Linked DNA regions of Homo sapiens. The protein of the gene in region 2 interacts with the protein of the main gene of each other region in a pairwise test. Each region holds a gene or a part of one and is shown on either strand. Other genes may lie near its edges.

Region 1 (7,022 bases), on a different chromosome or scaffold from region 2:
CTCCCCCACCCCGACCCCCGTGCTTCACGCTGGGGCAGGGCATGGACCTGGGGATGAGGAGGTGTCAGGGGGACACAGAGGACTTGGCTCCCCCACCCCGACCCCCGTGCTTCACGCTGGGGCAGGGCGTGGACCTGGGGATGAGGAGGTGTCAGGGGGACACAGGAAAACATGGTTCCTCGTGTGCCCAGGGGTGTCTGCCTCCCACCAGGAGGGGCCTCGGGCATGGGGCCCTGGAGTGACAGGCAACGCAGCTCTGCGCTCACGGACACGCAGGCCCGGCCAGTGCCAGGATGGGGTCAGGAGCCCCGGGGCTGTTCTTCACAGAATTTAACTTGAGTCTCAGTCAGAGCCACCCTCACGGACGTGGAGAACGCAGGGGAGAAGCAGCCGAACCTCCTGGGGACAGTGAGGCCGGGCGCCCAGACAGCACGGGGCTGTCTCCTCGCCAACTTTCTATAAAATGGAAGCGAGAGTTTTGATCCCACAATTTAAAACTCCGCACCAATTTCAAATTACCTATGTTCCTACTGCAGTGAGCTGAGACTGCACCACCGCACTCCAGCCTGGGCCACAGAGTGAGACTCTGTCTCATAAAAAAACAAAATCCTCTACTCTTCGTGGAATCTCTAGCTGCTTTATTGTAACTGATTTGTATTTATGGGACACATTAAGTGCCTGTTGAAAAAATAATTTTTATTTTCTTTCCATGACGGGCGATGACAAAATCTCAGACACTAATTTGTGGTTTGTTCTACAGCCGTTCAGGTCCTTTACTCGGAAGCTGCTCAGAGGGAGACTGAACGTGGCATAACAACAAGGAGTGGGGCGTCCTTCCCAAAGGAAGCACAGGTGCTCTCCGGGGCATGCGAGGCAGCACCAGGTCATTCAAAAGAGGCGAGGGTGGCTCTCTGCTCAAAGGAAGAGCTGGACACAGACAGGGCCTCAGGGAGGCCAAGGCCATGGCCCAGGCATCCAGACACCCTGTGGGGTCTGCACCCCCCCACCCCCCTCTCAGGTGCAAACTGCAGACAGGAGGCAAGCCAGGCCAGGCACAACCAGAAGGCCGGGCTGGAGCAAGGAGGAGAAAGGGGCTTCAGAGGCAAGCAGGCTGCGAGGTGCCAAACCCACAAGCCAGACCCAGGGGACAGCTGGGGCTCAGGCGGTGGAGGAAGGTCCTGTGTGCACCCTGGGCAGGGCGACCCTTGGGTTGTTGGCCCTGGGACTCAGCCTAAGGACCCGGCGTCCCAGCTGCCAGCTGTGAAGACAAGATTGAGCCCAGGTGACGACAGTGCCTGAGCCCCTGGCAGCTTGGGTGAGGAGACAGCATGCAGCCCACAGGCTGGAGAGCGTGGCTGCAACCAGAGGCACGGGTGGGGCACACGGGGGTCCCAGCTGGGCTTGGGGTCCCTCCTGCAGTGCTCCGTCCCCTTGCCTGGCAGAGGGGCCCCGGTAGGGGACTGCATGGGAGACACTGAGCGTAGGTGGGGAGGCCCATCCCCAGGACAGACGCGTGGGCCTCCATGGCACCTCCCACAGCCACTGTGCTTGGAGATGCCCTCCCCTCCCGGGGATGATGGTGCCACAAGGGCAGCCCTCCCATTAGAACCCCGGGGTGGGCAACGCGAGCCACGGGCCGGGAAGGACGCCCACCAGCCGGAGTCCTCTGAGCACGGTCCCGCAGGCTCACCTGTACTGGAACCGCCGGGGGTTGCGCCGCCTGTCCCGGCTATTGTGGTAGTGTGGGCACGCATAGCCCTGGCGGCACAGGCGTGGCGGCTTCGGGCACTGCTCCGTCTTGTAGCTGCCCAGCACGAAGTTGGCATCTGAAAAATGGGCCACACGGTGCCTGAGCAGCGCGACTGGAAGCAATGCTGGGCAGAGGAGACCAAAGGTGGAAGGACCTGGCTGTCCCCCAAATGGAAGGGGCTGCAGGAGGACTTGGGGAGCGCAGACACACGCCACGGCACACGCTGATGTCAAAGGACTCGCGCTCCATGAGGGAAGCCGGGCCAGAAGGCCACGTGGTGTGATTCTGTTTATGTGAAAATGCCCAGAACTAGGGAACCCACAGAGACGGAGTGGAGCCGAGACCACCAGGGCTGGGAGGGAGTCCTGCTGTGGGTGTGCGGCTTCCTTGCTGGGGGATGAAAATGTTCTCCAACTAGAGAGAGGTGATGTGTGCACAGCTTTTGAGAATATGCTAAAATCCAGAGACATGCACACCCCGAAATGCCGCATGGTGAGCCTCATGCGCACCACAGCCTCTGGGTGACAAGCACACATCAGTGTGGGTTCACTGTTGGTAAAGAGCGTACCTCGCAGTGCAGGAGGTGCACGGCAGGGGAGGCTGAGGGGGCAGGGGGTGTTTGGGAAATCTATTTTTCTACTCAGTTTTGCTGTGAACCGGAAACCGCTCTAAAAAATAAAGCCTATTTTTAGAAGTCATTCACTGGGCCGGACGTGGTGGCTCACGCCTGTTATCCCAGCACTTTGGGAGGCCGAGGTGGGTGGATCACAAGGTCAGGAGTTCAAGACTTGCCTGGCCAACACAGTGAAACCCCGTCTCTACTAAAAATAAAAAATTAGCCGGGCATACTGGTGCCTGCCTGTAATCCCAGCTACTCAGGAGGCTGAGGCAGGAGAATTGCTTGAACCTGGCAGGCGGAGGTTGCAGTGAGCTGAGATTGTGCCACTGCACTCCAGCCTGGGTGACAGAGCGAGACTCCATCTCAAAAAAAAAAAAAAAAAAAAAAAAAAAAAAAAAAAAAATCGCTGCCATACGCAATGTCCAGAATACACAAATTCACAGAGATGGGATGCAGGCCAGTGAGTGCAGGGACCAGGGAGGGGATGGGGAGGAACTGCTCATAAGCAGGGGGGTTCCTTCTGCAGGGATGGAATGTTCTGGAACTAGAGAGAGGTGGCAGCTGCACAACACTGCAGACGTGCTAAATGCCACTGGACTGTACACTTAAAAATGGTGCATTTTATGTTGTGTGTATTTTACATTTTTTTTTTTGAAACGGAGTCTCACTCTGTCACCCACACTGGAGTGCAGTGGCGTGATCTTGGCTCACTGCAACCTTCACCCCCCGAGTTCAAGAGATTCTCCAGCCTCAGCCTCCCAAGTAGCTGGGATTACAGGCGCCCACCACCACAACCGGCTAATTTTTTGTATTTTTAGCAGAGACATGGTTTCACCATGTTGGCCAGGCTGGCCTCAAACTCCTGACCTCAAGTGATCTGCCCGCCTCGGCCTCCCAAAGTGCTGAGATTACAGGCGTGAGCCAGTGCTCCCAGCCTTACCACGTTTTTTTTCAAATCAAAATCTCCCCTGCATATAACCTCATCTGTGTGCCAGCCAGGAATGCAGGTCCCCCAGCCCCGAGGGACAGCCCCCTGGTCCATATGTTTCTGGCCAAGCTCAGGGATTTGAAAGCTGCTGTCTAGAGCACCACCCCAGAGAGGCGCAGGGCTGGGGGCTCTGCTGGGCATCCTGGTGGGTGCCTGGTGGGCTGGGGGCTCTGCTGAGCATCCTGGTGGGTGCCTGGTGGGCGCCCCGGCTCTGGGACAGGACGCCTCACGAGTTCCGGTGGGAGTTGTGCTACCTCCTCGGCCACTTGGTCAATGGCTGGCCCCACTGAGATGCCAGTTGCCGCAGAGATTCAGAGCAGGTGCGGGGGAAGGCGCCTGGGCCCAAATCCCACTCGGCACCCACCCCCTGTTGGGGAGGGCTTGGTATTGGACTCCACGAGCCTCGGTTTCCCCATCTGATCACCTTGCACGTAAACTGAAAGGCACAGGGAACCAAGTGGCCCGAGCTGTTCTCGCGCTGTGCCCGCCCCCCCCACCACCGCCCTCAGCTGCGGCCGTGGAGTTACCTTGCCACCGGGGGTCCTCGCTCAGGATCTTCTCAATCATGGCCTGGCTGGCCAAGACCCCAGGCTGCAGATCCGGGACCCCTTCCCCGCCGCCCAGCTGGCCGTTCTGCAAGGCTTCCTGGGCCTGCAGCTCCCTGCAAGCCGAGGACACAGTGGTCACAGCTCTGCATCTGGAGCCTCCAAAGCTGAAACGAGGTCACTGGAGGGCACGCTCCCCTCCCACCACTGCACAGAGAGGCTGCTGCCGAAGGGTTCAGGACGGAGTCTCAGTGTGTGGCGCTCCGCTGTCCTGGCCCGCAGTCCTCATCCAAATCCCAACCACTTCATTTTGTTTGCTTTGTCTTGTTTGAGACAGGGTCTGGCTCTGTCCCCCAGGCTGGAGTGCAGTGACGCAATCACAGCTCATTGCAGTCTCCATCTCCCGGGCTCAAGCGATCCTCCCACCTTGGCCTCCCAGAGCACTGGGATTACATGTATGGGCCACTATGCTCAGCCCCACCCAAGTAAGAGCGGAGTTTTGTGTGGGCAGGATTCGCTTTTCTGCAGCCCCAGACCATGTGCTGAGTTCGTTCTCCTGGAAAGCAGCAGTGCCTCACGGCCTCAACCCCAGTGAGCTGCCCTCCGGACCCAGAAGAGAAACACACAGTGAGAAGAGCTGAAGGACTGTCTGCCCCAGACTGTGTGCTGAGTTCGTTCTCCTGGAAAGCAGCAGTGCCTCACAGCCTCAACCCCAGTGAGCTGCCCTCCGGGCCCAGAAGAGAAACACACAGTGAGAAGAGCTGAAGGACTGTCTCATTAGAAATAACATCCAGAGGCCAGGTGCAGCGGCTCACGTCTGTAATCCCAGAATTTCAGGAGGCCGAGGCGGGCAGATCATGAGGTCAGGAGATGGAGACCATCCTGGCTAACACAGTAAAACCCTGTCTCTACTAAAAATACAACAAAATAACCCAGGCATGGTGGTGTGCGCCTGTAGTCCCAGCTACTCGGGAGGCTGAGGCACGAGAATGGCGTGAACCCAGGAGGTAGACGTTGCAGTGAGCCAAGATCACGCCACTGCACTCCAGCCTGGGTAACAGAGCGAGATTCCATCTCAAAAAACAAAAAAAGAAAAGAAAAGAAAGAAATAACATCCAGAGGCCAGGCGCAGTGGCTCACTGTAATCCCAGCACTTTGGGAAGCCAACGTGGGTGGATCACAAGGTCAGGAAATCGAGACCATCCTGACTAACATGGTGAAACCCCATCTCTACTAAACATACAAAAAAAAAAAAAATTAGCTGGGCGTGGTGGTGGTCACCTGTAGTCCCAGCTACTCGGGCAGCGGAGGCAGGAGAATGGTGTGAACCCAGGAGGCAGGGCTTGCAGTGAGCTGAGATCGCGCCGCTGCACTCCAGCCTGGGTGACAGAACGAGAATCCGTCTCAAAAAAAGCAAAAAAAGGACTAACATCCAGACTCAGAAAGAAATTCTGGAGGAGAGAGATTTGGGCCAGCAGAGCCTGCAGCAGCAGGGAGGCGAGCCACTTGCCGAGTTCCTGCTCATCCAGCAGAGCCCACAGCAGCAGGCAGGCCAAGTGCCCACTCGTGGATGCCCACTCACCTGACGTCACACACGGGCGGCCGCAGGTCCAGGGGGCCGTGCGCGAAGGCACAGTGCAGCCCATTCTTCACGCAGTGGCCACGTGCGTCTGTCTCGTGGATGCAGGTTCCTGTTTTGTAGTAACGCAGGTGGTACTTGCGTTCTGTGTCCCCCGTCGTCCGGTGCAGGTAGGGACACCTGGGGAGCAGAGAGGCACGCAATGCCTGGTTATCATGGACCCAGAGGCAGCCCTAAGCTCCCTGGGTCCACGCCCTGTCAGCACGTGGCAAGCAGTGAATTCCCTTCCCTTCTTCCAGATTCCTGTTCTAATCAGAAGGACGGACACACTGGACGCAGCACCTGTCCCCAAATGTGGAACCGCCCAGGTACACAGACCACCGCAAACCCCCAGTCAACCAGTCAAACACAGTAAGAAACACAGACCATCGCAAACCCCCAGTCAGCCAAACACAGCAGGAAACACAATGCTGAATTTCCACAAAGCTCATCCTTCCTAATGTTCCAAATAAACCTTTAAACCTGTGTGGGAATGAGAGTTCATGCCCTGCACGCAGGCTGCGTCACCTTCCTTACCCGTCGCAGTCACAAAGTGGGGGCCCCTCCTGCCCAGCGTCCTGCTGCTTTCAGGGACCCCAGGAGGGAGGTAGGGGAGGGAACAAGCACAGGGCCCTGGACGCGGCTTGGGGGACACGAGGGGGATGGGCAGAAGAGGCGGCAGATGGCGTGGTGGGGAACACAGGTGAGGTAGCATCACCATCCCATGGGCCACCTGCAGGCCCAGAGCCATGCTCCTGGGGAGTCACAGGCAGCTCCTGAAGCACGATGGGGTGCAGTGGAGAGGGGAAGCAGCTGCCAAGGCTCAAGTCATAGGCAGGCAGCAGCGACGGAGACAAGGAGACGACACAAACCGCTCTGGCATTCCTGGGCGCCTCCAGGTAGGTCACTCCAGAAGGAGGCAAAGGGACGCACAGAGGACCCTGAGTCATCAATGGTGTCGAGCCCTGGCTGGTCACAGAATCACCCTGAGTGGCCCAAGGGCCAAGGCAGAGGATGACATGGGCCGTCACTGCAGGCCCCCAAATGTAAGGACTGAAACCTTCACCTCCAGCTCCAACTGGGGAGCTCCGTGAGGGCCCCGCCCACCTCACTGTGCACAGGGCTGCAGCCTGGGCACTAGGAGCTCCAGCCAGGGATGGCTGGGGACCAAGAGCGATTCAGCAACACCAGGTCTAGCCCCATCCTCTAAGGTCAGGAAACAGAGACACAGAGTTCAGAGAGGCCGACCCAGGCTCCGCTGGGCACCTGTGATGTGCCAGACACTGAAAGCTGAGGGTCGACAGAGGCAGAAGAAGGGGTGCCTGGCTGGCTCTCAGGGTCCCCAGGAGCCAGCCAAGCAAAAGTCAAATTACAACGCTACCTTGGTACCCAGCGATCCTGCTCCTAAGTACACATCCAAAAAACCTGGAGGCAGGGTCTTCAGGAGACACCTGCACACCCATGTTCACAGCAGCGTCATTCGCAAGAGCCAAGAGGCAGAA
Region 2 (7,572 bases):
GGAATTAGAGAAGTCACCTCCAAGGAAAGGGCCTGTCACATTTCTGCAGCCCCTGCAGGCATCTACCCCCACCGGGCTCTCATTTGCCTCCAGGCTTTCCAAGGTTCTGGCCACGTGGGAGAAGTAACTTTCTATTTACTCAGTCTTTTCCCTTAAATAAATTCCATTTTTTACCTGAATAAAGCTTTATAACGCTACCCTTAACAGAAAACTTGGCAGTTTACAAAAAAGTGGCCGGGCACGATGGCTCACGCCTGTAATCCCAGCACTTTGGGAGGCAGAGGCGTGAGAATCGCTTGAGCACAAAAGTTTGAAAATCAATCTGGGCAACATAAGGAGACCCCATCTCTACAAAAAATACAAAAATTTGCCGGGCGTGCTGGAGAGTGCCCGTGGTCCCAGATACTCGGCGGCTGAGGTGGGAGGATCCGTTGAGCACAGGAGGATCTCGGCAGCGAGCCGAGATCACACCATTGCACTCCAGCCTGGGCAACAAAGTGAGACCCTGTCTCAAAAAATAATACATATTTTTTTATAGAGACGGGGTAGGTCTCTGGGGCCCAAGCGATCCTCCCACACCTCGGCCTCCCTAAATGCTGGGATTACAGGCGTGAGCCACCTCGCCCGGCCGATAATGACTCTAATCTACAGAATGCACACCGGAATGTAATACCTACAAGGGAAAAGATCTTCTTGCTTAGGAATAAAGCAATCTCTCTCTTAATATTCATTAAAGTAGTAATGTCTTATTTTATAGTTTATAAATTCTGTGAGAGCAACGAGTCACTTTGCAGGAATAGCACTTAAGGTATCTTTCACCTACCTGGAGAACCCAAGAAATTTTCATCTTACTAGGAATTCAGAGACAACCACGTATTTAACTTTTAAAAATATAACTAAGTAGAAAGAATTATATGCGTGTATTTTTGGAAGAATTAAGATGACTTTTGGGACGGAACGACTGAAAACTACGCTTTCAGAACTCCCTGCCGCCTGAGGCTGTGGCCCTGACCCCGGCGCAGGGCCCGCCCCGCGCGGTTCCGGGAAGCCGCCGCCGCCGCCCGTTGCCCTTCGCGCGCAGCCGCCAGCGCGCGCCTCGCGTCCCGCCACGCAGATGGCCGGCCCGAGCCCCCAGCGCCCGCGAGCAGTTTCGAGAACTAAAGAGGCGCGTCAGCTCGTCCCCGGGCCGCCCGCGGGCAATGGCCGAGCTCGGCTCTCCTTCCACCCTCCGCCGGGACACACGCGGAGCCGAGCGGGGGTCCCAGGCGCCTAGGGGGAGGGGTTCCCGCGCCCGGGGCGGCCTTGGGGGGAGGGCGAGTCGGGTGCCTTGCTCCTCAAAACCCTGGTCCACGACTCTGCGGTTGGGGGAGCCGGGCAGCCGGCGCAGCAGGAGCCGGGCCCCGTCCACAAGTTTCCTACGAGCAGGGCGGAATCGACGAAAATACTTAATACAAACAAACAAAAGGAAAAAAAAAAGGACGACTAAGCTGAAGAGCGCGCACGAGTCAGATTTTCACCCCAAATACAAACACGATACCTCTAGGAGCAGGAGACCAATACAGGGACCGCGCTCCGAGGACACGCGGCGCAGCCGAGGAGGAAAAAGGGCCCGGGGCCGAGAGCTAAGGCTACGGGAACCGGGCGTGGGAGGAGGGCGGAGCCAACTCCCCACAAGGAAGTCTTGTGCAACTCTCAGGCGCCTGCAGCCACGTGAGCGCGCGGCTTTCATTTTACTCAGGTATTATTACTATTATTACTTCTTTTGAGACAAGGTCTCATTTCCGTCGCCCGGCTGGAATGCAGTGGCACAATCACTGTCACTGCAGCCTCGACCTCAGAGCAAGCGACCCTCCCGCCTCAGCCTCCCGAGTAGCTGGGACAACAGGCGCGCGCCACCACACGTGGCTAATTTTTTTTTCTTTACTTTTCAGTAGAGACAGTCTATGTTGCCCAGGCTTGTCGGGAACTCCTGGGCTCAAGAGATCCTCCCGGCTGGGCCTCCCACTGCGCCAGGCCTGTTCTCACTTTCAGAGCCCTCCGGCAGTCGCCAGCTCCCCGCCAGGGGGCCGGACTAACGCACCCGGCCGTCCGTGCCTTCCCCGCGCTTTCCTGACTCCAAAATCTCAGCCCGCGGTGCTCACCGCGTGGGACCACTGTCTGGGCGTGCGGCTCTCGACCTCCGACGCTGCGTCTCCCGATCCCAGTGGGTCCAGTTCTTGCCGGTCCCACGTACGGGCCCCTCGACCTCGAATCCCGTCACCCAAATCTCAGCGCCACGGCCCCTCATTATGTGCAGTCCTCGCTCGGTCCCAGGTTTGCGGCGCTTAAACTCAGATCGCTCTTCCCTGATCCCAAATCCCAGCCCCAGCCCAACGATCCCCACCCCAATAGGCCCAGTCCCCAGGTAGTCCGGGTACGGGGCCCTGGACTTCGGATAGTCTCCCTAATCTCAAATCCCACCCCCCGTCCCCACCCCCAGGGGGACCCGGTCCCCGCTAGGTCCCGGGTGTGCGGCCTTCGACCTCGGAGACTTCGGCCGCCCCTCACCTCGGCCTCCGAGTCTCTACACTCCCGCTCTCATATCAGGCACCCCGGTGGTCCCTTGGAGCACCTAGAGGAGGGTGGGACGCGGGGAACTTGGCAGTTGTAGCAGAGGCAGTTGAGGCTTGTTGACCATCACCATGGAAACCCCCGCCTGCGAGCACGGGGCGGAGCCTACGAGGGGCGGGGTCAGGCGCGCTGCCGGCCCCAATCCTCAGCGCCTGCCCGTCGAGCGCACGCGGCTTTGCCGGAAGCCCTCCTGCTCCCGGCGAGCCAGGCCCCGACTAGGCCCTACTGCCCGGCTCAGCCCTTTGCCCTGGACACCAGGAAACAGAAGCCCAAGGAGCCCGCGTCCCCACCCCCTGCTACCTGCCGGCGTGACAGCGATTCGGTGGCCCCCCGAACCCCACCTTGAGGAAGACGCGGCGCAGTCCTGCTTCCACGACGGAGCCGGAAGGACGCAAGGACCGCGGCAGGGCGGAGTTTCTGCGTCCGGCGTCCGGGGGCGGGGCCGCGACGGCGCATTGTGACGCGCCAGAGCTGAGCCGCCGGTTGGCCGGCTGGGCGCGGAGCAGAGCCGACACGGCTGGCGGGGGAGGCGGTGGAGGCGGACAAGCGAGGACGTTTCTGGAGAGGAGAAGGGAGGGGAGGGGAGGGGATAGGGGGAGGGGGAGGAGGAGGAGGGAGTGGAGCGGCGGGAAAGATCCCTCTGACTGCCCCTGAGGCCCTGGAGGAAGGACACTGGTGAGCCCCGCAGGACACTGAAATGTGCGCCGAAAGGACGCCTGATGGAAGACTAGGATGGGAAAAGGAAATGAGAGCCGATGGCAGGGCGTGGTGGCGCAAGCCTGTGGTCCCAGTAATTTGGGAGGCTAAGGCGGGAGAATCGCTTGAGCCCGGGAGGTCGAGGCTGCAGTGATCCGTGACTGCTCCATTGCGTCCAGCCTGGGCGACAGAGCGAGGCGCTGTCTCAAAAAATAAAATAAGGAAAGTAGTACACTGAAGGCCGGGCGCGGTGGCTCACGCCTGTAATCCCACCACTTTGGGAGGCCGAGGCGGACGGATCAGGCGGTCGGGAAATCGAGACCATCCTGGCCAACATAGTGAAACCCCTACTAAAATACAAAAAAATTAGCCAGGCGTGGTGGCGCGCGCTTGTAGTCCCAGCCACTCGGGTGGCTGAGGCAGGGGAATCGCTTGAACCCGGGAGGCGGAGCTTGCGTGAGCCGAGATCGCGCCACTGCACTCCAGCCTAGCGACAGAGCGAGACTACGTCTCAAAGAAAAAAAAAAAAAAAAGGTACACTGAGTACTCCGGAGACCGCCTAAAGGGGTCTCAGAGCAGGGCGTTAGGAGGGATTTGTCAGGTTGAAGTTGCTCAGGTGATAAATTCCGTGGTGTGAGAAGCCCCCAAACCTCAGAATGTAACTCAGACCCAGGTCGAGGGCAAGATTTTCAGTCACAGAGCACCTGAACACACAGATTTGGTGGCTAATGGCTAAGCCAGGGACAGATTTTCTTTCTTTTCTTTTTTTTTTTGATGTATTGTAGGGCTAATAATTGTAACCATTTTATTTTGGTGGATCTTCTTCATGAAGAGATGATGTCAAGGCACTCATCACAGGTTAAGCTGAACATTGTTACTATTGTTATTATTTCCAGACTGAGTATCGCCCTGTCATTCAGGCGGGAGTGCAGTGGTACAATCACGGCTCACTGCAGCCTCGACCTCCTGGGCTCAAGCGATCCTCCTGCCTCAACCTCCTGAGTAGCACCACCACTCTCGGCTAAATTTTGTATTTTTTGTAGAGGCGAGGTTTCGCTGTGTTGCCCGGGCTGGTCGGGAACTCCTGGACTCAAGCCATCCGCCCACCTACGCCTCCCAGAGTGTTGGGATTACTGGATTGAGCCACGCATCTGGCTGAACGTTATTTTTTAAATCACCAGAGAAAGTAAAGGAGTGCTCAAAATAGTGTCAGATGATGAGTGGGATGATTGTGATGAAGGAAGGAGTTTGTTAAAAGAAAAAGCTAGTTCCAAGAAAGAGAATGGAAAGAGTAAAGCAGGAGCTGTCAGAATAGGTAAAAATGTCCAAAGAGAAAACTGCATAATTTGAGGCAAAATTACAGAAAATAGTTCCTGCAAAAATCAGATAGGTATTCAGCATCATAGGAAAGGGGCGAAAATCAGATAGGTAGGTATTCTTAAGAAGTTGTGGCCGGCCGGGCGCGGTGGCTCGCGCCTGTAATCCCAAGACTTTGGGAGGCCGAGGTGGGTGGATCACCTGAGGTTAGGCGTTTGAGACCAGCCTGGGCAACATGGCGAAACCCTGTCTCTACTAAAAATACAAAAAAAAATTAGCCGGGCGTGTTGGCGCGTACCTGTAGTCCCATCTACCCTGGAGGCTGAGGCAGGAGAATCGCTTGAATCCAGGAGGTGATGGTTGCAGTGAGCCGAGATTGCACCATTGCCCTCCAGCCTGGGTAACAAGAGCGAAACTCTGTCTCAAAAAAAAAAAAAAAGTCATACAGTGACTGCATCACAGCTCATGCTGTAGAAAGATGTTTCTGGAGAGAAAAATTCAAGTAGCCAATTTAAATCGAATATTAGGAAAATTAAACCAAAAGGGCTCACGCCTGTAATCCTAGCACTTTGGGAAGCCGAGTCAGGCGGATTACCTGAGGTCAGGAGTTCAAGACCATCCTGGCCAACATGGTGAAACCCTGTCTCTACTAAAAATACAAAAATTAGCCGGGCGTGGTGGCACATGCCTGTAATCTCAGCTACTCAGGAGGGTGAGGCAGGAGAATTGCTTGAGCCCAGGAGATGGAGGTTGCAGTGAGCCAAGATTTTGCCACTGCACTCTAGCCTGGCCGACAGAGCAAGACTCTGTCTCAAAAAAAAAAAAAGAAAGAAAATTAAACCAAAAGACTAGTAATGCTTCAGAAATTAGGGACTGTTAAACCAGCTGCAAGAAGATATATTCATGCAATCTTTGTATTAAGAGTCTCTCTGGCTGGGTGCGGTGACTCAGACCTGTAATCCCAGCACTTTGGGAGGCCAAGGCCAGTGGATTGCTTGAGCCCTGGAGTTCAAGACCAGCCTGGGGAACATAGTGAGACCCAGTCTGTATTTTAAAAGTTAAAAAAAAAAAAAAGCCTCTAAGCTAAGTGGACCTTTGATCCCCTCACTCAAATTTGACAGTTCTCCATTATTCATAAATGAGGTAATAGTTGTTGGAGACGGTCTTCTCTGAATGCAAGACTAGTACTTTGGCCTGATTATAGAACTTCCTGCCGTCCTAAGGAGTCATCCCAGGTGTCCACTATATCTTTTTCAGCATTGAGTACCAGCACAGTCACATGTAGGCTTTATCCCACAGTGAAGACTTGGCATCACTCAGAATGATGCCACAGGTCCTAGGCCTTTTCCACACTGGGCTCACTTCACCAACTCGCAAATGCTCATCCACACCTGGTCCACCTGGACTACCTCCTTATCTGTAGCCCTTTCACCTCTGTGTCCATAGAAATGTCTTACCTAAGCTCTGAAATCTAAACATTCAGAGAGCACCTTGATGCTTGAGAGCATCTACACAGAGATGAACCTTTAAGATCTATGGTTTAAAACAATTGAATTCCAAGATGTTGCCCCTTACAGACTGACCTGCCTGATTATTTCCTGTTGTTTATGTACATTGATTATTATCAAAAACTTAATACTTTATTTTTTTTGAGACGGAGTCTCGCTCTGTCGCCCAGGCTGGAGTGCAGTGGTGCGATCTCAGCTCACTGCAAGCTTCTCCTCCCGGGTTCACGCCATGCTCCTGCCTCAGCCTCCCGAGTAGCTGGGACTACAGGCGCCCACCACGGCGCCTGGCAAATTTTTTTTTATTTTTAGCAGAGACAGGTTTTCACCGTGTTAGCCAGGATGGTGTCAATCTCCTGACCTCGTGATCCGCCCGCCTCGGCCTCCCAAAGTGCTGGGATTACAGGCGTGAGCCACCGCGCCCAGCCAAAAACTTAATAGTTTTTAATAAATATTGTCAGGTTTTTTTTTTTTTTTTTTTTTGAGACGGAGTTTTGCTCTTGTCACCCAGGCTGGAATGCAATGGCACGATCTTGGCTCACCGCACCCTCCACCTCCCAGGTTCAAGCGATTCTCCTGCCTCAGCCTCCCGAGTAGCTGGGATTAGAGGTGCCCACCACCAGGCCCGGCTAATTTTTGTATTTTTAGTAGACACGGGGTTTCGCCTTGTTGGCCAGGCTAGCCTTGAACTCCTGACCTCATGATCCACCCGCCTCCGCCTCTCAAAGTGCTGGGATTACAGGCGTGAGCCACCGCGCCTGGCCAATATTGTCAGTTTTAAAAAATAAGTTCCCCTCTAGACACTACTTATCCATACAATTGGTTACAGGTTTGGAGCGTTACAGAGGTTTTTAAATCTTCTACTCAGTAGTTCTTGAAAAATCACCTTACCTATTAAGCTGAGATTCCCCCTTCCCGCAAGACGGTGCCATTAAGTAGGCAGGGATCACCAAGGTTCAGAGATGTCTCTTGCTCAAAAATCATAGTATCTGTTAAATAGCAATAACCGTAGCTAACACATACTGCATTCTCACTATGCTTTGTGCTATTCTACTTAATCCCACTGAAACCTGGTAACAACCCTGCAGTAGATACTACCACCATTTGGCGGAAAGAAACTGAGTCACCCAGCTTCTAGATGGCTGAGCTGGAAGTTGTATGGAGGCTGGAGGCCCCATCTGATTCCAGGGTCCGTTCTCAACTACTGCAATCTAGATCCTAGCGAGAAACGGGCTTTTCAGGCTGTCTCCTCCCTTTCCCATCTGAGAGGAGAATGAAGGAAGTGAGAAAGCCAACTGACCTGTCTAGTCAGTATAGGCCCTGTCTAAATGTCACTTTTCTCCTTGAAGCGAGGTGCTCTAGGAGGCAGAGATAACCCAGGTGGGAAGAGGCACATTCGGCAGTGACAGCCTTGTCTGGTTAATTTTCATGACCAATATAGAAA
Region 3 (7,022 bases), on a different chromosome or scaffold from region 2:
ATTTTTTTTACAACGAAAGTCTGCTTCACTGAAAACTTTTATCTCTACCATGAAACACACCTGCAGCTACTTGCAATGAAACCTCTCCATTGACTGGAATCCTGTCAGCATTAAATACCAGATACATAAGAAAATTATTAAAATATGTACAACCCTGCATTAAAAAAAAAAAGGATTGAATGAATTTGAGTATATTCTGAACTCACCTTGAACCTGGGTTCAAAATTTACTCATGAAAGAAACCTTTATGACATAGTCCATGAACAAAACTGGAAAAGGTCAGAGGGAAACTGGCAAACCAACAGTGTCAAAGATGGTCCAATGTTACCACCACCACCTCTTAGTCTCCAAGCAGAGTATTTAGTTGACTATTTCCATATCTCTCAATCAAATTCAAGTTAATAGACTAGTAGGATCAGAAATACAAAGATAATAATTTGAAAAGACTAAATTTTACTCAGAGTGAAGACCCTGACTAAATTTATTAAGAGCAAGCTTAGTTCTTAATAAGTAAATCAAGTATCTTTAACGCATTAACTCATGGTAGCATCTAAATACTGACCTGAAACCAACTCATAAAAAATTCTGAATGTCATACAAGTTCTCCTATCCTCTACATAAAACTTAAATTTTCACTATAAGGTTTTGAAGAAATAGATGGATTCAGCTTTATACTGAAAATGCCTATTCATTTTAACACTGCGAGAAAAAAGAAAAGTGCCTTTTCATCCTGGCACCTGAAATCTGAATTGTTTTTTTTTAACTGGGCCTGGAAGTAATCTGATCCTTAATTATTGCTTAGGGGAGGGAATAACCCTACAGGCTGAAGATTTCATTAGCAGCCCACCAGTCTCTTGAACATAATGTGGCAATGCTTCTATCATGTGTGTGTGTGTATATATATAGTCTCCCTTCCGTCCCTCCAAAATAATAAATAACTTTAGGTGAAGGACATCAGAAATAGCAAAAAAATGGAAATATGGAAATTATGTGAGTTTTTTTTTTAATACATAGGACATCTAGCCTTTTATGGAGTAAGTCTGCCAACTCCAGTCTAGGTTGTAGAATGCAGAATGATACAGGGAAATACTGAACTGATCCAGCTCCCTCCACTGAATGGCTGTATGTGCTTTGACAAGTCACAATCTCTTTCAAAACTAGTTGCCTCATTTATAAAATGCAAACGCCTGAGTCCCACACCCAATCAAATGAAATTCAAAATCTCTGGGAATGGGGCCCCACACATAGCCTCCCCCAGGTGATTCTAAAGCATAGTGAGGACCGAAATCCCGAGATTAAATGATGACTAAATCTCTTCAGCTCTGCTATTCTTTCTATAAATAACATAGTTTGTAACACTGATTTTTTTAAAAGAACTGCATCCTAAAAATAACCTTCCTCCTGATATAATCCAAACTTAAGTTCTATGTATTTTATACAATTAAAAACAAGTAGCTACAAGTTAAGTCACTCTACAGCAAATACAATCTAAATAAAATTGTGTCAAAATATTTCAAATTTTAATTAATGACAGAATGTTATGGTCTAGGTCAGGAGTCAGCAAACTTTTCTGTAAAGAGCCAGATAGTAAATAGTTTAGGCTTTGTGGGCCACATGGTCTTCTGTTGCAACTACTCAACTCTGCCATTCTAGTGCCCAAGTAGCAGTAGAGAATATAAAAGTAGAAGTGTGTTCCAATAAAACTTTATTCAAAAAAACAGGCAATAGTCCAGATTTGGCCTGTGGGCTATACTTTACTGACTCCTGCTCTAGCTGATACCACAAAACTCTATAAAATAGAATTTAGACTAGATTCAACCTGCATAAATTATTTCTAATTACAGTTGAAATTCTGATACTTCAATCTTTGGCTGTAAAACAAGAGTTGGACACAAACTCTCTGACATAACTGTAAAAAATACTGGAATTATAGCCAAAGTTACATTAATAATATTTATCATACTTAAATACATATAATCTTCAGTGGACAGATGGTAAAATAGAAACAAAATACTCAGGATGCTTATTTAAAACAACTAAACAATGTTCTTAGTTGCCTGAATTACATTTTATACGATTTTATTTTTATGGCCTATTTCTGGTATTCCTACATACTTGCAAGAGATTTTAAAATCTAAGTAGCTTAATTGAGCTCTTATTTAAATAACATCACCTTTCCATGTATAGTAAACTGTTCATATTTCTACAGGTACTAAGAGTACACTGGAATTACGTGTTACATATAAATGGAGAGGTGGAGGGAAGGGGGAAAACTTGCACTAAGTCGCCTAAGAGATAAACTGATAATGTTAGTAAGACAGCTTTGTATTAAAAACTTTTTATACTACAAGTTACTGCAGAATCATCTACTGTAAGTTTTATCTCCCCACCAGAAAACTGAAATGTTGATTTACAATATTAATGTAAAATATTTAAAAATAAATAAAACAAATGTTGTTTCCCCTAATAAAAACTTAATACCTATTATATCAATGTACTACAAATCAAGGAATTAAGAACTTAAAGTTTAATGAGTATAGAAACAAAAAACCATGAGCCAACTCCCTTTCAACACCTGCTCACCTGAATACTGAATACCATACTGTTGAGGCTGCTGAGGTGGAGCCTGCGGCTGCTGTGCACCATAGCCGGCCTGTTGCTGGTACTGTTGGTACATCTGACCTGAAAACACACACACACACACACAAGGAAAAAAGGCATGTTTAATGTGGCAAAGAGAAATATTTTTAAGATACATATACATTCCCTCTCCATCCAAACAGAGTAACAATATACAAGAAAGTATTTGTTCAACTTTAAATGTCTATGAAGAAGAGAATGAACCATTTTAGAAGTGTGATTCCTCTGCTGTGGATTAACTGCAGAGAACTAACTGGCAATAAACATTAAGTGCAACACCAGTGGCTACCATTTCATAAAGTCTAGAAAAACAAATGTTTTCCAACCCAGCTGCCAACAGATAAGTAACGCTAATGTTCATTAAAAGCCAAGTGAGTTGAAAATCAGTAAATAAAAATGAGAAAAGGGACAAATACCATTTATATCATCTAAGTCCTTCCTAAAGCACTGTATTTGCCCTCTAAAGGTATGGGCCTCTATTACCATATGAACAAACTCTTTGGTAGCAAGGAACTATATGACATCTTTTGTTCCAGAGCTGAAAGACACTTTTGGAATTTGTCAAGTTTGATTTTCTATGAATATCCAACATCTTTTGCCAATAACGTGGACTCTAATAAAGTCTAAATGGTTCTTCATTGCACTATTTAATAATGGCAGACCTTTTTAACAACGGTGATGTGTTCTTGAACATGGGAGTCCTATTTGTCCTATTTGGGGTCAACAACCACTGTTCCTATGAAGAAACCCTTTAGACACTTATTACCTATGATTTTTCTTTTTACTTTTTATTTTTCTGTCCTCACAATCTGTTCCCATACCTGTGATTTTCAAGCAAAGATTTATTGGTTTATGTCTTTATTATCTCTACTTCTCAATTATTTCACAATGGTTGATTTAGCTAGATGTAATATCTAGTAGCAATAACCTTGCATTTTAATATCTATCTGGTATTTAAATCTTTAAAATAATCACATGTTGGCTGATTCTTTGAAAAATATTCAAACTACCTATTAATCAAAAGACTATGAGCAAACCAGATACTTACTGCTGAAGTGAGAAAAAAAAAAAGACATTATATCAACTCCCACTCAAATCGAGCTGCAGTAGGCAGCTAGGACTCACAGGCTTAGAAAATGAGACGGAGCCCACTCTATTATACCAGCTGCTCAGCCCTATACGTGTCTAAGTTTTTAGTGCTGGGTAGCACTAAAGGAGATACAACTATGTTTATATCCAGCTTATTTCCTAGCAAATGTTTCTTTATAATAAAAAAAGAATACAAATAAAAATCAGCTCAACTATTTTAAGCTATTTATCCTATTCCCAAATATGACAAGAAAAAAAAAGAAACGCTTACAAAAGTTTCTTAAATGCTTTCTTAATGATTTAGACTAATAGCATAAAAGGTAGCACAGAAATTAACCAAATTTAGATGCCACCTTAATCCTGGATTGTACTTCATAACTAACTTTCGGAATAGAAGTGACCAGAATCTAAAATAAAAAGGTAAGTAGGTACAGAAATATAATCAAGGGGAATAAATACGTATAGCACATAACAATGAACTCTTAATTCTTGAAAATTAGAAGGCTTAACTCCACAATAAAAAAATAAGCAAACAGGCAATAAACACATTTAAAAAAATTCAACCATATTAGTATTCCTTATCTCAGATACAGAAAAATTAAGCAACTTACCTGCAGTCAATAGCTAAGAACAGAACCATGAAGAGCTAAGAACCATCACTGGAACTCAGGCATAACTCCAAAGCTTTAGTTTATAAAGTCATTTTGCATATATTATCCCATGAACAAAACAATATAAATATTAACTTGGGCATCATCAAAAAAGGCTGAGATTAAGGTTCCACGTAGTAGTAGACTGTGGTCATCAATGAGTAAGGAACTCCTGGTCAAAACCACAGTTATTCCCCTCAATAAAAATTTATAGGGTACAACTCTTCATAAAGCTTTTTTTTTTTGCATGTTTTCATAAACTGCTATAAATTGATTTTGAAAAACATCCCTAGAGTTAAAAATTTCAGAGGTTTATTATATCTCTACACAAGATTCCTTTTACACAGCAGATCCTCAAATAACATCTTTTGTTCGACATTGTTTCGTTAAAACACTGAGAAGGAAAAAAAAATTATTCCCAGTTGGGGTTACTGTTCTGTGTAGAGTCTGCACATTCTCCCCAAGTCTGTGTGGGTTTTCTCTGGGCACTTCAATTTCCTCCCACATCCCAAAGATGTGTATGTTAGGTTACTTAGCATGTCTAAATGATCTCAGTCTGAACGACTATGGGTGTGTGTGTGGTTGCAATGCACCCTGCAATGGAATAGCAACCTGTCAGGGTTGGTCCCCACTTTGCTACTGAGCTGATGGGATAGATTTCAGCCACCCACAACCCTGAATTGGAATAACTGCATAAATCATTATCTTATTTGTTTTTATTAATCTTTCTTAAATGTATCTATAACTCACATTTGTTTTTAGTCTTTATCTAGAAGTCTGGGGGTATTTTTGTGATCAGAGATATGCTGTAGGAACTCAACTTACTCATATCAATTAGCCTATGGTAGAACTGATTTCCTCATACGTCATCTCACTTAAAGTTACAATTTCCAAGAACCTATCAACAATGTTAAGTGAGGATTTACGGTACTTACTTTAAACCCACCTCATTCAAGTCCAAATGGGACTGTCACAGTATTCTGAAAATTAATTAAGAAGTCTGTTTAATTGTTTAAAAAAAGAAAAAGGATGAACTTCTTCACATACTTGAGAGATCTATAGGATATATGAAGAGAGCAAAATGCAGACATTGTTTATAGTAAGCAATGTTTTGAGTAATAAAAAATATGGTCATGCATTGCTTAATGACAAGAGTAGGTTCTGAAAATTGTGTCACTGTATAATCATATAGTATACTTACACAAACCTAGATGTATATAGCCTACTACATAGCTAGGCTATATGGTACATAGCAGTCTACAAACCTGTAGAGCATGTTCCTGTACTGAATACTTAGGCAATTCTAACACATGGTAATTATTTGTGTATCTAAACATATCAAAACATAAAAAAGGTACAGTGAAAATATGGCAAAAAAGATAAAAAATGGTATGCCTGCCTAGGGCACTTACCATGACTGGAGCTTGTAGGATTAAAAGCTGCTCCAAGTGAGGTACTTGTGTTGAGTGAATGTGAAGGCCAAGGACATTACTGTGCACTACTAAAGGTTTACAAACGCTATACACTTAGGCTATACTACATTTATTTTTTAAAATTCCATTTCTTCAATAAATTAACCTTAGCTTACTGTAATGTTTTTACTTTATAAACTTGATTTTTTAACTTTTTTAATACTTTAGCTTAAAGTACATTGTGCTACTATACAAAAATATTTATTCTTTATATCCTTATTCTATAAGCATTTTTCTATTCTTTTAATTTTAAATTTTTACTTTTTTAAACATTTAGAAAAAAATTATGACACAAACATACACATTAGCCTAGGCCTATACAGCATCAGGATCATTGATATCACTATTTTCCACCTCCATATCCTGTCCCACTGGAAGGTCTTCAGGGTCAAGAACATCCATGGAGCTCTCATCTCCTATGATAACAATGCCTTCTTCCGGAATACCTTCTGAAGGACCTATCTGAGCCTGGTTCTACAGCTTTGTTTTTTTTTAAATAAGTAGGAGTACACTCTAATGATTTAAAAATATAGTATAGTAAATTCACAAATGAGTAAGAGAGTCACCTATCATCATTATCAAGTATTAGGTACTACCCATAATTATGTGAGCTACACTTTTATATGACTGGCAGTAAGTCTGTTTACACCAGAATCACCACAAACACGTAAGTAATGCCTTGTGCTACATTATGATGGCTACACATCACTAGGCAATAGAAATTTTTCACCTCCATTATAATCTTATGAGACCACCATCATATATGCAGTCCACTGTTGACTGAAATGTTATACAGTGCATGACTATATATAAGCTATGTTTTATGTATATTTTCAAAAAGAATCAATGACAGAATAAAGTAAAAAGTAATAAAAAAAATTAAGGGGAAAAGAGAACAGGATGAAGCAAAGAGTAATGGTAAGACTTCTGGGAATTATTTATTACACAGAGTAGCCAACCTCTATCATGACCCTCAACGGCTTCTGCACATGTATAGCATTTATGACAATGGGTTGGTATCGTTTATATTCTTAGAAATTAGAAAGATTTAACTCCACAATACAAAAATGACCAAATAAGCAACAAGCACATGAGTATCTGCTCCCTGTTAGTCCCTCACATACTGAATAGGGCTGACCTGTATACCAAGAAAATATTGCAGAAATGACAG

Evidence for each region. The genes of interacting proteins can lie anywhere in the genome.
Region 1: the proteins of HNRNPF (region 2) and UNKL interact in binary tests that used the Homo sapiens proteins (3 or more experiments, as listed by UniProt).
Region 3: the proteins of HNRNPF (region 2) and TFG interact in binary tests that used the Homo sapiens proteins (3 or more experiments, as listed by UniProt).

What each region holds. Positions count from the first base shown.
Region 1 is NC_000016.10:1,397,684-1,404,705, forward strand, and holds part of UNKL (putative E3 ubiquitin-protein ligase UNKL), read right to left. Parts: intron 5,662-7,022; coding exon 5,485-5,661; intron 4,019-5,484; coding exon 3,885-4,018; intron 1,827-3,884; coding exon 1,691-1,826; intron 1,259-1,690; coding exon of another isoform or gene 1,159-1,258; exon of another isoform or gene 618-1,158; intron 457-617; coding exon of another isoform or gene 397-456; intron 1-396. UniProt on the Homo sapiens protein: May participate in a protein complex showing an E3 ligase activity regulated by RAC1. Ubiquitination is directed towards itself and possibly other substrates, such as SMARCD2/BAF60b. Intrinsic E3 ligase activity has not been proven.
Region 2 is NC_000010.11:43,406,180-43,413,751, forward strand, and holds the start of HNRNPF (heterogeneous nuclear ribonucleoprotein F), read right to left. Parts: upstream 3,008-7,572; 5' UTR 2,952-3,007; exon of another isoform or gene 2,911-2,951; intron 2,679-2,910; exon of another isoform or gene 2,548-2,678; intron 1,600-2,547; exon of another isoform or gene 1,538-1,599; intron 1-1,537.
Region 3 is NC_000003.12:100,740,493-100,747,514, reverse strand, and holds part of TFG (protein TFG), read right to left. Parts: intron 2,683-7,022; coding exon 2,584-2,682; intron 1-2,583. UniProt on the Homo sapiens protein: Plays a role in the normal dynamic function of the endoplasmic reticulum (ER) and its associated microtubules. Required for secretory cargo traffic from the endoplasmic reticulum to the Golgi apparatus.